2 linked regions of the Homo sapiens genome follow. The protein of the gene in region 1 interacts with the protein of each later gene in a pairwise test. Each region holds a gene or a part of one and is shown on either strand. Other genes may lie near its edges. The genes, in order: SPAST and ZFYVE27.

Region 1 (7,000 bases):
GTTTTAGGTGGGAGAAGGAGAGAAATTGGTGAGGGCTCTTTTTGCTGTGGCTCGAGAACTTCAACCTTCTATAATTTTTATAGGTAAGAACATATTTTCCAACTAAGTTATTGACTATTTGTGAAATTTCCCTCTCCAAATAGGAAAGATACGATTGGAAACATTATTCAGAAGGAAGAAGTTTTAAAGAAGGGCAAGCTTAAAGACTATCTAATGAATTTAGTAGGACCCACTATATTAATAAGTAGTAAACTAGATTAATCTCAGATGACTCACATAGCTTGGTCTTTAATTAAAGTCTTATACTTGTATTTCCTCTAGATGAAGTTGATAGCCTTTTGTGTGAAAGAAGAGAAGGGGAGCACGATGCTAGTAGACGCCTAAAAACTGAATTTCTAATAGAATTTGATGGTGTAAGTGTTGATTATGATATTTTTAATGTGGCAGCATTTTAGTATATTTTCCTATTAAATGGCCAAGGTTAAAAATACAAATATCTTTATATTTGTTATTACTTTTCTAAATGAATTGAAAAAAGATTTTTTGCTTGTAGGTACAGTCTGCTGGAGATGACAGAGTACTTGTAATGGGTGCAACTAATAGGCCACAAGAGCTTGATGAGGCTGTTCTCAGGTAGGGAGATTTATATGGAAATACATGCATTTATTACAGACAATATTTACTCATGTGTCCATCTTACATATTATTTCCTTACTCTCAGTTTTAAGACTAAATTCACTATTTTCTTCCAGTACTATCTCTAGCCTCTTGTTACCAACTACATAAGGATTTTGAGGTCAACAGCTTGATATCAGGAGAATTAGTCTAGTAAAGGTTTAGTTACGGTTTTAGGCAAATTGGTCAGTTCTTCTGGGTTGCATTAAATTATCTTTAAACTTGAAAATTGATTCTTACCGTCTTTTATTGGGCTTCATGAGAAAATAATCAAATCAGGGTTCATGGAAAATGTGTTTTCTGTTCTTGTGTGTTTGAGCAGTTTATTCCCTTCATACTGGAAGGACGGTTTGGGTCAGCATAAAATTCTTGGGCATCCTTTCCCAAGGAATTTACAATATTGCTCCATTGTTTCTAGATTGGCTGTAGTAGTGTAAAAGTCTGAATCCAAATTGATTTTTTCAAATTTGTAAAATAACTTGATTTTTTTCTCTCTTTACTGGATGGGTTACGTGGGTATATTGCACCCAGGTAGTGAGCATAGGGTGCAGTAGGTAGTTTTTCAACCCACACCTCACTGCTTTCTTCCCCCATGTAGTAGTCCGCAGTGTGTATTGTTCCCATGTTTATGTCCATGTGTACTCAATTTTTAGCTCCCCACTTATGAGAACATGAGCTATTTGGTTTACTGTTCCCACATTAATTGGCGTAGTATTAAGGCCTCCACCTCCATCCATGTTGCTGCAAAGGACATTATTTCATTCTTTTTTATGGCTGCGTAGTACATAGTATTCCATGGTGTGTACGTACCACATTTTCTTTATCCAGTCCACCATTGATGGACACTTAGATTGATTCTATGTCTGCTGTCATGAATAGTACAGCAATAAACATGAAATGCATGTCTTTTTGGTATAATGATCTATTTTCCTTTGGGTATATACCCAGTAATGGGATTTCAGGGTCAAAGGTAGATTTGTTTTATGTTTTTTGAGAAATCTTCAAACTGCTTTCTACAATGACTGAACTTTACATTCCTACCAGCAGTACATACGCTCCACAACCTCACCAACATCTGTTATTTTTTTACTTTTTCCCGCCAATCTGTAGACAATATGGGATTTTTTTTGCCATTTTATTAATAGCCATTCTGACTGGTGTGAGATATCTCATTGTGATTTTGATTTGCATTTTTCTGATGGTTAGTGATGATGAGCATTTTTTCATGTTTGTTGTCCCCTCGTATGTCTTTTGAGAAGTGTCTATTCATTTCCTTTTTACCCATTTTTTAATAGGGTTGTGTGTTTTTAGCTTGTTCAATTGTTTGAATTCCTTATAGATTCTGGATATCAGACCATTGTTAGATGCAGTTCTGTAGATTGTCTGTTTACTCTGTTGATGGTTCTTTTTGCTGTGCAGAAGCTCTTTAGTTTAATTAGGTCCCACTTGTCAATTTTTATTTTTGTTGCAATTGTGTTTGGGGACTTAGCCAAAATTTCTTTCTGAGGCTGATGTCAAGAAGTGTATTTCCTAGTTTTCTTCTAGCATTTTTATACTTTGAGATCTTACATTTAAATCTTTAATCCACCTTGAGTTAATTTTTGTATATGGTGAAAAGTAAGGGTCCAGTTTCATTTTTCTACATATGGCTAGCCAGTAATCCCCATGCCATTTATTGAATAGGGAGTCCTTTTCCTCATTGCTTGTTTTTGTCAGTCTTATCAAAGATCAGATGGTTATAGGTGTGTGGCTTTATTTCTCAATTTTCTGTCCTGTTCCTTTGGTTTGTGTGTCTGTTTTTATACCAGAATTATGCTGTTTGGGCTGCTGTGTAGTTCGGTTTAAAGTCAGGTAACGTGATACTTACAGCTTTGTTCTTTTTGCTTAGGATTGCTTTGTCTATTTGGACTCTTTTTTTGCTTCCATATGAATTTTAGAATATTTTTTTCTAATTTTGTGAAAAACAACATTGATAGTTTGATAGAAATACCATTGAATCTGTAAATTGCTTTGGGCAGTATAGTCATTTTACGACCAGATAAATCAGGCAAGAGAAGGAAACAAAAGGCATCCAAATAGGAAAAGAAGTCATCATACTCTCACTCTTCACTGGCAATATGATTCTATACTTTGAAAACCCTAAAAATTCCGTCAAAAGGCTACTAGAACTGATAAATGATTTTACCCCAAGATTCAGGATACAAAATCAGTGTACAAAAAATTAGTACCATTTCTATACGCTAATAATGTCCAGGCTAAGAGTCAAATCAAGAACACAGTCCCATTTACAATAGCCACAAAGAAAATGAAATAATGGCTGGGCACAGTGGCTCATGCCTGTAATCCCAGCACTTTGGGAGGCTGAGGCAGGTGGATCACCTGAGGTCAGGAGTTCGAGACCAGCCTGACCAACATGGTGAAACCCCGTCTCTACTAAAAATACAAAAAATTAGCCAGGCGTGGTGGTGGGCGCCTGTAATCCCATCTGCTCGGGAGGCTGAGGCAGGAGAATTGCTTGAACCCAGGAGGCATAGGTTGCAGTGAGCCGAGATCGTGCCACTGCACTGCAGCCTGGGTGTGAAAGAGCAAGAATCCGTTTCCAAAATTAAAAAAAAAAAAAGAAAAAAAAAAAGACAATGGAGTACCTAGGAATACGGCTGATGAAGGAGGTGAAAGAATCTGTATGAGGAGAAGTGTAAAGCACTGCTAAAATAAATCAGAGGTGACACAAATAAATGGAAAAACACTCCATGCTCATGGATTGGAAGAATCAATATCGTTAAAATGGGAAATTTATCTTAATTTTTTTCCCTAGTTCATTTTTCTGTTTTCTTTTGCACATAAATTATGTGTTATGTTGCGTCCTTTTGTTTTCCCTATCTGTAATTTTCTTCTTCATCCTTTTAAACTCTTAGGTCTTTTTGTTTTGTTCTGTTTTCCCAAGCCTGTTGCCTTTATTTCTTACTGGGTTAGTATCTAATCTCCTTTCTGCTATATCTTTTGTAACTCTTCTTTCCTTGGTGGTTTTTTATTCATTACTTTCCTGACATCTGTTATTCTACTTTTCATCTTCTGTTTTATTTCTTTGAGCATCTGTATGTTATTTCCATAAGCTCTTACATTTCACTGGGCTCTTGTTTCATAGAAAACAATTTTTTGGCAAGGACAGACCACTTGAGGCCAGGAGTTTGAGACCAGCCTGGCCAACATAGTACAACCCTGTCTCTGCTAAAAATACAAAAAATTAGCTGGGTGTGGTCACACACACCTGTAATCCCAGCTACTCAGGAGGCTGATAATCGCTTGAACCCAGGAGGCAGAGGTTGCAGTGAGCCAAGACGGCGGCACTGTACTCTAGCCTGGGGGACAGAGCAAGGCTCTGTCTCAAAAAAAAAAAGAAAAAATTTTTTGGTCAGGCGTCATGGTGGGTCACACCTGTAATCCCAGCACTTTGGGAGGCCAGATCACTTGAGGCCGGGAATTCCAGACCAGCCTCGCCAACGTGGCAAAACCCCATATCTATAAAAAAAACTTAAGGATAAAAAAAATTAAATTTTTAAAAAATTAAATTATTTTATTTCGTGGAAAGATACTTGGTCATAATTTTAGTTTGCTCTATGGCAAAATCTTCTCATGCATGTTCTTCATTTTATCTAGTTTATGTTTATTGTGTTTTGTTTGCTCTTTTTTGGGGGCAGGTTTTGTTGTTGTTGTTTTTTTTTTTTTTTTTTTAAATGAGCCCTGTCCTGGTTTTTCCTTTTTTGCTTATTATTTTTCTTTGAATAAAAGGAGTTTTCTTGGAAAACCTAGTTTTGGAAGGATATTGTAGGGGAAGGGATAGGTATCTTGAGTAGTCCATGTATACACTAAACTAGCATGCAGCCTCCCTCACTTACAGTGAAGCCCTACCTAATAATGAAGTATATGTGTATGTAAATAAGAGATAGGGTTGATTTATTCTTCTACTAAAAAATATTGGTCACTGCAAGACATTGTCTTCCCGCCAGACTGTTAGATGCCTTCTTATAAAGATAATTCGTCTTAGAGTTTCTTTGTTCATTCTCACCTTCCTTGCCATTCCTATGCTATCAATTAGGGTTTATATGGTCTGCAGAGCCAGGCTTCATATGCTTGTTTAAATGTGGAGGGACTGGCCTTATTACCCTTTAGGGTGTGCTATCTCTTTTTGGGAGGAAAACTGTACTCTGACAGTCATGTCCATGATCTTTAGCGGCAGATCCTTTGTGTGTCTTCCTTTGTCAGTGTAATTTTCACTGCCCTAGGCAGTTCACCTTTATGTATTTTAGTTCCATAAATGTTACCTAGTTTGTTGATGAAGTGTATGTTTCTGTTTCTATTATCCTTGCTGATTTTAGTTTTTTTCAGATTCAAGAAGACAGATCTACTTATATCAGATATTTTGTTTGTTTTAAAGCATTACTGCTATTAAAAACATATACATACATAAATGATTAATTCTAACAATACCGAATTAAGGATTTTAAACATTAACTAGAGTTTTAAAAGAGTAACAAAAATATTTTTACATTGATAACTACCAAAATGCATTCCAGTGCCTTGAATATTATATTTTAAAAGCTTTTCCTGTCATTTGCTGTTTCAGCTTTAAATTCAAAATTATATTTCTAAAAGTGCTGGATTTTTTTTTTTAGGCGTTTCATCAAACGGGTATATGTGTCTTTACCAAATGAGGAGGTATGTATCTGTGTTTGAATTTTTTTTGTTTTAGAGCAGAAACAAGAACTACCATCTTGACAATATTAAGTCTTCCAATCCATGGTACAGCTACTTTGGAAAACAGTTTAGTGGTTTCTTAAAAAGATGTACATAAGCTTACTGTCAGAGCCAGCAATTTCACTCCTAAGAATTTACCCCAGAGAAACAAAAATGTATGTCCACACAAAGACTTGTACAAGAATTTTTATAGCAGCAATATTAATAATAGCCAGAACTACAAATGATCTAAAATGTTTATTTTGGTGAATAAACAAATGTGGTATATTCATTTAATGGATACTGTTATCCATTATACATGCTGCATACTCACTTCATATATTAAGTTTTATGAATGAAACTCCAAAACATTATAAGTGAAAGAAGCAAGATGATATATGTCGCATATCATAGGATTCTGTTTATATGCAGAAAACGCAAATTTATTTTTTATTTATTTATTTTTTTGAGATGGAGTCTTGCTCTGTCGCTCAGGCTGGAGTGCAGTGGCGTGATCTCGGCTCACTGCAACCTTCACCTCCTGGGTTCAAGTGATTCTCCTGCCTCAGCCTCCTGAGTAGCTGGGACTGCAGGCATGTGCCACCAGGCCTGGCTAATTTTTTGTGTTTTTAGTAGAGACGGGTTTCACTGTGTTAGCCAGGATGGTGTGATCCGCCCTCCTCAGCCTCCCAAAGTGCTGGGATTACAGGCATGAGTCACCGTGCCCGGCCAGAAATCGAAAATTTCTAGAAACGTAAAGCAGATCAGTGGGTTGTCAGGGTGAGAGTTGGGAATGAGGATTAACTGCAAACAGGTATGAGTGAACTAAAAAGTGTTCTAAAACTGGATTGTGGTGATGATTGCACATCTATAAATGTATTAAAACTCATTGAATTATATACTTACAATGGGTGAAATTCATAGTAGATGAATTCATACCTCTATAAAACTGGTTTTTTGCAGCAAAATATTTATTGCTATGTTTTTATTCAAGTGTGGTGAATTATTGCTATGTTTTTATCCAGGTGTGGTGTCTCACGCCTATAATCCCAACACTTTGGGAGGCTGAGGTGGGAGGATCGCTTGAGCCAGGAATTCAAGACCAGCCTGGGCAACATAGGGAGACCCTGTCTCTACAAAAACTTTTTTAGAAATTAACCAGGCATGGTGGCACGTGCCTTTGGTCCCAGTTACTCGGGAGGCTGAGATGGGAGGATTGCTTGAACCCAGGATATCGAGGCTATAGTGAGCTATGATTGTGCCCTGCACTCCAGCCTGGGTAACAGCACAAGACCCTGTCTCAATATAAAAAAAGAAAAGAATCATTAATTCTGAAATTAGACTGAATGATCATTTTTTAATATTTTTCAGACAAGACTACTTTTGCTTAAAAATCTGTTATGTAAACAAGGAAGTCCATTGACCCAAAAAGAACTAGCACAACTTGCTAGGTGAGTAATTTGGATTTGGTTTATCTTACAGCTTTTATTTATTTTTTGTAAATAATTCTTTTTTTAGTTATTTAAAGTAATCTTAAGTATGAAATGAGTAATTCATTGATCAGAAGACTTTCTCTCATCCTCTACCTCCT
Region 2 (8,310 bases), on another chromosome or scaffold:
AAAAAATAAATCACTGTTCTAAGCCACCCAGGACAGAGCTGTTTGTCCTCTGAAGGTGGCCAGGATGACAGGAGCCAGCGTGTCCAGCATGCCAGGCACCGGGCCCCATGCCTCCCGTCGACTCTCTCATTTCTCTCACAGCACCCGCACAAGCTATGCATCACCATCAGGTGCACTTTCCAGAGGAGGAAAGCACAGTGAGCCTGGGGGCAGCATCCCTATGCCAATGGGCCCCAGCACCGCTCCAACAGATGGTAAAGGGGTCCAAGCATGGAGGTGGGCCACAGCAGGCGCCAGGCACCACCCTCTACTGCTGCAGGGACTCTGCTCCTACTTCAGGGGAACAGTGCCTACCTCAGAGTTGCTGTGAGCAATAAATGAGATACTGCACGCAAAGCCCTCACCAGTGCCCAGCACCCAGCCACCCACCACCCACCTGCCCCAGCTCAGGGCATGGCTTGCACTTCCCATCTCATGTCCAATCCTCTTTCCTGCTGCTCTCAGCCTCCCTGAAGGCTGACCCTTTCTGGCTTTCTCAGAGGGATTAGTTAAAATCTTTCCGTTGTAAAGCCTGCATTGTTTGGGGTTTACCAAGTTCTAGTCCCAACCCCAACCCCCAGTGCTGGGCCCTCACAATTGGGTCACAAGACTGGGCCTCAAGTCAATCCGACAAGCATTTGCTGAGCCTCTCCTGCGTGCAAGGCACAGCTTTCCTCCTCTTGGCCCCCAGCTCATACCCAGACCAGGCTGCAGCCCCCACGCCCCTGCCACCATGGTGCCCCAAAGGCCCGCCCCTCAGCCTGGTCCTGCAGGAATTGCCCAGGCCTGCAAAACTCCAGCAGTGCCAGAGAGATCTGGTCTTCCAGCCTCAGGGAAAATGCCAACACAAAGACATGACAAAAACAAGAAGCTTGAGGCCTTTTTATTGACAATTCTCCATAGACACAGAGATCCTTTTAGTTCCTCTCCAGTGTAAAGAAAGCACGGGGTACTGAACTCTCCTCTCTTAAAAGGACACAGAGGCGATACGATACCAAAGCCTGTCTGGCTCCCCAGGGCTGTGGCACCTCCACTGGCCTGGGTAAGCCCCTGGCTGCACAGCCCCAGCTAAGCTGCTTGGCTCGGCAAGAAAGCGGGCCTAGGATGGGTCCCTTGCCTCCCCAGCCTGCCTCTCTGGACCCCTGCTCCTCGAGTGTAGAAACCTCTCAGCCCCCTCATGGGTCCTGGGTCCCAGGCAGCCCATGACTCCAGGGAAGAGTCCTAGGTAGAAGACCCCCACCCCCAATTCCTCCTCATCCCATTACTTGTGCCACATGTTCCCAGGAACCATGCAATAAATAAATAAATACTTGAGAAAGGCAGGGCAGCTCCAGGGAAGGGAAGGGATGCCTGAGCCAGCTCATGGCTAAGGGAGAGATACTGAGCCCGTAAGAGTCCAGTAGTGAACATGAAACTGTTGGAAAGAAATGGAGACCCCCAGGGGGCCTTATCCCATAACTGAGACTGTCCTCCAGGGAATAGCCCTGGAATCCAGGACCCAGCCCAGCGAGATCCTACACTACCCAGGCCCCCAGGGGTCAAGGGCTTCAGGACCTCTGCTCCACTCACCTGGCCTCCCACTCCATTGGACAAGAGGCAGGGAAAGGAAACTGGAGTGCTGGGCCAGTGGAGGACTGCCCTAGACTCTGGACAGAGGGTGCAGAAGTTGTGATCCAAGTGCCCTGCAGCTGCTCCAGCGGAGCTGGGGACACTGGGGCATTGTGTGGGCTGAGAGTCTGTGAATTGAGGTGTCTTCGAGGGGAGGCCGAGGTCTGTCCAGCTATTGGGGCTTCCCCAAGCTTTCCTCCACTTAACGCTGAAGGACTCAGCCAAACCCTCCTATACACATTCTCCTCTCAGGGAATCTGGGAACTTCAACCCTGTTTCTAGAAGCACCCATGGTCTTGTTAGGCCTGGCCACACCCTCTGATGGGGAAATGATGAGATCCTGGTGCCTGGAGGGACATTCAATCAGCAGAGATGGGGTGTGGCACTCCCAAGCCCTTCTGCAGGCTCTCTGAGGCTGAGGGCCTGGCCCAGTACCCTGCAGGAGAAAAACCTCTTTTCCCAACCTCAGGTCTGGAATTCCCAGGCACAGCCACACTGACCCTGATCTTCAGACCCCAGTCAGGCCTGGCCTAGTTCGCTGCTGCCCTCTGGTGGCTACTGCCTGCCCAGCCCTAAGTCCACTCGCTCAGTCCCAGGCAGAGCAGGACAAACATGCCAGGCCCTCCAGGGGCTCTTCTCCCTCAAGGGATTGAGAGCAGCCATTGCCAGCCACTCTCATGGATGGAGAACAGCTCCAGAATCCAGCTGGAGAGAGTGAGGAAGGAAGGGGAAGCCTACCTAGCATTCAGGCCACATTTGCCCAGCACACACCACAGTGGGCCAGGGGTGGGGAGAGTGGGGGGTCTACTGCTGGTCCCAAGGACGGGTGCCTGGTTGGACCCTGGCCTCTCTTCTCACTTGCTCAAGGTCTGGTTACACGAGGCACACACAAACACAGTCTCCCTCTGGGCTTCAGGGGCTGAAAAGGAGGAAGAACTTGGTGAGACATTTCCTTGCGCCCTTTGGTTCATGGCCCCAACTACTAGAAGCACCCTCCCAAATGCCCCACACAGACCCCCCACCCAGCCCACACCCTCCCTGCCCAGCTTGCTAGCCTGCCCGCAGAGATTCTTCTTTCCATGGGAACTGGGGATCCTGGGGGTGATGATGCCAACAGCAGGCCACTCCTGTGCTATGAATTAGACATTATTGTGGCACCAACAGAACACCTTCAAAAATTTTTAAATAAAATATTAAATACAAAAATTAGCCAGGCATGGTGATGCACGCCTGTAATCCCAGCTACTCAGGAGGCTGAAGCACAAGAATTGTTTGAACCCAAGAGGCGGAGGTTGCAGTGAGCCGAGATGGCGCCACTGCACTCCAGGCTGGGCGACAGAGCGAGACTCTGTCTCAAAAAAACAGAATAAGTAAAATATCACAGTGAAATTTCCCAAAATGTTTTAACAGTGGTTACCTCTGGGTGGTAAAATTACAGGGTTATTTTTCTCTTCCTTCGTCCTCTGTATAATAATTTCCAAATTTTCTAGTTAGTAAGCATATGTTACTTGCATCGGAAGAAAAAAGAACTTGGGCTGGGGGCGGTGGCTCACGCCTGTAATCCCAGCACTTTGGGAGGCCGAGGCGGGCAGATCACCTGAGGTCAGGAGTTCAAAACCAGCCTGACCAACATGGAGAAACCCCGTCTCTACTAAAATACAAAATTAGCCGGGTGTGGTGGCGCATGCCTGTAATCCCAGCTACTCGGGAGGCTGAGGCAGGAGAATTGCTTGAACCCAGGAGGCAGAGGTTGTGGTGAGCCAAGGCCGTACCACTGCACTCCAGCCTGGGCAACAAGAGTGAAACTCCGTCTCAAAAAAAAAAAAAAAAAAACTTGGTTTAACATTATACTACAAAACGGTACATGAAATGTGACCACATTTTTCAGGAATATGCATGTGCTTTTATTCTACATGCAAGCTAATGAGCAGCAGGGTCCATGCCCGATTGTTCTCTCAGGAAGAAATCAGGAATTTTTTTTCCTTTTGCTTATCTGTGTTTTTTATTTACAATATGTATAGGAAATATTTTATATTTTATAAAAGGAAAAAAAGGAATTTTTAGTTTTGTTCAAAGTGCCAAGGAAATAAGAAAAAGATTAAAATTGCGGCTGGTGATTGACTCCAGGAAGGCAGGAGCAGTGCTGGGAGCTGCGGGGGTGTTGCCAGGGCTCTTGTTTTTCAACTTTAGTGAAGCAGCCACAGGTATTCATCTTGTTATTACCCTTCACAATTCACAGGTACATCATATCTATTCTTCGGCATGTACCAAATGTTTCAGGATTTTGCTAAAGGGGATGGAGGAAACGTTCCCGTAGGCCTGACTACAATCCCAAGTTCCCTTGACCTCTGACACCCTTGCCTCTGTGCCACAGCGTGACATCCCCTGGGCGGGATACCAACCAAGCCCTCCCACCACCTGCACCACTCACCTGTGGCCCCCATGGAGGACTTGGGCACCTTGAAGGAGCAGCATCGAGAGCAGAAGCTGTTTCCACAATTACTGCAGCTCCGCTGCAGACAAGAGCCAAGGTCAGATGTGTCCCTCACCCTCAGGTACCTGGAGTTCTCAGCACCTCCCTCCTTTCCACCAGCTGATCCCACCCAAGGAAACTGGGCCTGGGGGGTGCCCAAGTGGAGCAGGAAAGAGAGCAAATGGAATACCCCCTGGGGAGGCTGGTAAAAGGTGGCACAGGCGCAGGGGAGGGCACACTCACTCCAGAAAGCCACTGCCAGGCCCAATGTGACCCGAGCCAGACTTTCTCAATGACTCCCCTCAACTCCTCCCCACCCGACAGTCCCAAGGACACTGTCCCCAACAAATGCACCCTCACAGACACTCACCCTCTTCTTCAGCACTGAGAAGGTGGCCGAGCAGCCCGTGCAGTTCCCTGAGAAACAGAGGCAGCAGCTCAACCCCCGCCCATCCCAGGACTCTCACGCTCACCTGCTCCTGGCGCTTCTAAATGGGACACTCAGGACACCAGCCCAGCCTCCTTGGCTGGACACAGTGAGCCAGGGAGCAAGGCCAGATTCAGAGACAGAAAGAAGGACTCAAACTAAGAAGACTGATAGCCCCTGAGGACTGATGTCTCCAGCCATACATAGCTACCAGTCCCTGAACCCTTCCAGAGCTGAGTGGCCCTACCTACAGGTTCAACAGAAATCAAAGAGCACCCAGCAGAATCCACTCCAAGAAAGCCAGCTAAGCTGGCAGGGACCTGACCACAGGCATCCCCAAATGACACCTGCCTAACATGACCCTTTCCGGAGCAATGCCTTACAAATACTCCACCCACAGGCTAAAGACAGAAACTCCTAAAAACCTAAACTCCTGCTTTCTGTCCCCTGAAGACTGCAGGAGAGAAACTCAGAGCCAGGCACATTCCAAGAAGACATGAAGGGTAGAATGCTCAACTGTAAAGACACGAAGGGTAGAATGCTCAATTGTGGTGGGCAGTGAGTGGCATGGGGGGACGCAGAGCAGGGAGAGGTCCTGCCTAAACCACCAGAGATGCCAAGATGGCCAAGTGCCCGGCAACAGTGGAGGGGCAACGGCAGCTTAGAAAATGGCTAGAAGACAACAAGGGGGTGTAAGGGGAGAGGAGAGACAGAGAATGAGGTTTCTGGGATGTGGGGCCCATAGGCCTGCTATGACCCAGCCGGACCACCTGTCTGGGCAAGTACAGAGCACCAGGCCTCACTTTCACAGAAAGGCCCCAAAGCTTTATTGACGGCTACATGTGGTCCCTTCCTCTGTCCAGCCAAAATCACCTGAAGTTCTTGCTAAAGGAGACTCCCTAGGTTCAGGGAAAGGAAGACCTCTGCTAGAGCCAGGGGAAATCTGAGGCCAAGGTGCTTCAGGTAAATGCCCACCCTGTCAGTCAGCCAGGGAAAGAGAAGAACAAGCCTACTGCTGGTGCCAAACCAGGAAACTGGCTGCTCCAAGATTCTGTCCCTACACCAAGAATTTGGGGAAGGCAGCCTGCCCCAGCCTCTCCTTAGCAAGGGACACAAGGGGAATGGGACAGGCAAAAGGAGCTACTCAAAGACTGACACTGACCTGAGCCCAAGGTCTCCTCTAAACTGAATGGAATGTCAGGGCCAAGCACCCCAGGGCAGCCAAGTGGGCTGGGGAGACAGCTGTGAACCCACTCACAGACCGGAGCCAGGGAGGGCTCTGGGAGCTGAGAGCAGCTCAGCCAGGTGACGTTCCCTTCCAACACCTACCAACTCTTTCTGCCCCTTCTCAGCAACAGCCTGGACTCACCCATCCTCACTCACCACGTGACGATGCCACCGAGGCCATGACAGCAGGGGCACTAAGGCCCAGTGGGGCCTGCCAGGGCAACAGTCATGGAGCCTCCAGGACAAAGGGGGGCCCTCCCCACCAAGACCTCTCCCATACGGAGGCCACAGAGAAGCTCCTTTGCAGTCTGCCCTCATTCTCCCCATGCACCCCCTCATCCACTGGCAGGGGTAAATAGAATAGCCCCCACCACAGTCCCCTAACATTCACATGTGGAATCCTAACACCCAAAGCAGGGCCCCTGGGAGGTGACCGGGTCATGAGGGTGGAGCCCTCGTGAATGGGATTAGTGCCCTTATAAAAGAGGCCCCAGAGAACTGCCGTGCCCCTCCCACCTTCTCATGAGGACACAGTGAGAAGGTGCTGTCTATGACGACGGAAATGGACCTCACCAGAACCTGATCCTGCTGACACCCTGATCTTGGACTTCCAGCCTCCAGAACTGTGATGAGAGATTTCCATTATTTAAAAGCCCCCCAGCTTAGTGTATTTCGTTATAGTCGCTGAAATGGAGAAAGCCCCCAAAGCAGCTCCCCTCGCCCTGCTCTCAGGACCCAGGTTCAGGAGCAGAGGCCGCAGGAGCAGAGCTGCTACACCTGCCCTCATGGCAAAGAGCTTGGGAACATCTCAGAAAAGGGAAAGTAGCAAGTGGTCTTGAAGGATGAGGAACTAAGAGGAGTTTAGGAAAAGAAGCACTTTCTGCCCTTGCCATCCTTGAGGGAGGCTGAAAAGGCCTCTGCCCATGCTGGTAGAGATTATCCAAACCAAAAATCAAATACAAAAGCGGGACAGGCATAAAACAAGGGACTTCACACGCAAGGGCAAAGGGAAAACAGAGAGGGAGGATGAAGAGGTAGAAAGAAGACAAGAGCCGAATCAGACAACCTGAATTTGAGTCACAGCTCCACCATTTCCAGGCCAAAGTCTCTGGGCAAAGCACTCTTTTTACCTCAGGTTATTCATCTGTAAAATGGGAACAGCTAAGTACCTTTACTTAGAAGTTGTAGAAATAGACAAATTATTTGCTGGACCAGAGTAATACTTCTTGTGTGTAGTGTTACCGGGCACTGCTGGAATCTGGCTGCTCTGAACCCTTAAGAACTGCCTGCTCCTGTCACACCTACGGTAAGGATGAAATGAGATCACACATGTGCAAGTATGGAGGGTAAACAGATCACTGAACATACAGAATGCCCTGCAGAAGTCAGCAGGCAGCATAAATAAAACAAAGGGGCCGGGCGTGGTGGCTCACACTTGTAATCCTAACACTTTGGAAGACCAAGGTACAAGAATCACTTAAACCCAAGAGTTCAAGACCAGCCTGAGGAACAAAGTAAGACCCTGTCTCTACAAAAAAAATTCAAAAATTAGCCAGGCATGGTGCTACATGCCTGTAGTCCCAGCTACTCGGGAGGCTGAGCTGTGAGGATCACTTGAGCCCAGGAAGTCGAGGATGCAGTGAGCTGTGATCATGCCACTGCACTCCAGCCTGGGAGACACAGTGAGACCTTGTCTCAAAAAAAAAAAAAAAAAGGGATCTTGAATAACTGGGGGACATTCACACAGCAGAAAGAAAGAGCCTGTCCAGGACATCTAATCCTGAGAAAACAACTGCCCTGGCTGCTGCAGGGGTAGGAAGGCAGGACCCTGGGGGCCCTGAGTCAAATTCCTCAAGATAAACTCCATTGTCTTCTTCCAGGGCACAGACCCTAGAACTCACTCAACACCAGAACACACAGTACTGCCCCCTTACCCTGCTCCCATCTGACAGCAGGCAGGAGGGCCCTTCCTCAGGAGCACAGCAGCTCCCAGGTCAACCTAGCTACTCTAGGTTTCCACCATAATTGTATGTGGCTCAGCTCTCAGCGCTGCTGATCTGAGCCAGGTCTCTAAGCTGTGCTGTCAAGTCCACCCTTCTCCAAAGCTGCCTTCCTTGACCGCTCTCCCCCGACCCTCAGTAAAATAAGGACTGGCTGGGGAGAGGTGAACTCAGGGCTCTATCACGTCCAGAGAAACAATGTTTGCTTCAACTTGCTTCCAGCTGGATAAGAAAGACCAAGACAGGATCCTAGGAACCCACAGCGTGGGTCAGGGCCTCCCACATTAACCGCACCCACTACTTACTATGAACCAACCAGCACTGTGCTAGCCCTTCGTAAGTACTACTGTCTCATTTGACATGAGACCTGTAACAACCCTATGAGGTAAGAATGATGATCCCCCTTTTACAGAAGGGGAAACTGAGGCACGGGGTGTGAAATAATTTGCTCAAGGACACCTGGCTGAGCTGGGATTTGCAGCAGGCAGTGAGACTCTACTCTGTTCCTCACCATCATGCTACACTGCCTTCTGAAG

Evidence for each region.
Region 2: the proteins of SPAST (region 1) and ZFYVE27 interact in binary tests that used the Homo sapiens proteins (3 or more experiments, as listed by UniProt).

The regions. Positions count from the first base shown.
Region 1 is NC_000002.12:32,136,556-32,143,555, forward strand, and holds part of SPAST (spastin), read left to right. Parts: intron 1-7; coding exon 8-83; intron 84-321; coding exon 322-413; intron 414-553; coding exon 554-633; intron 634-5,348; coding exon 5,349-5,391; intron 5,392-6,780; coding exon 6,781-6,860; intron 6,861-7,000. UniProt on the Homo sapiens protein: ATP-dependent microtubule severing protein that specifically recognizes and cuts microtubules that are polyglutamylated.
Region 2 is NC_000010.11:97,753,492-97,761,801, reverse strand, and holds the end of ZFYVE27 (protrudin), read right to left. Parts: intron 7,076-8,310; coding exon of another isoform or gene 7,050-7,075; exon of another isoform or gene 4,538-7,049; coding exon 4,491-4,537; intron 4,161-4,490; coding exon 4,079-4,160; intron 3,935-4,078; coding exon of another isoform or gene 3,924-3,934; exon of another isoform or gene 3,621-3,923; intron 2,567-3,620; coding exon 2,502-2,566; 3' UTR 907-2,501; downstream 1-906. UniProt on the Homo sapiens protein: Key regulator of RAB11-dependent vesicular trafficking during neurite extension through polarized membrane transport. Promotes axonal elongation and contributes to the establishment of neuronal cell polarity.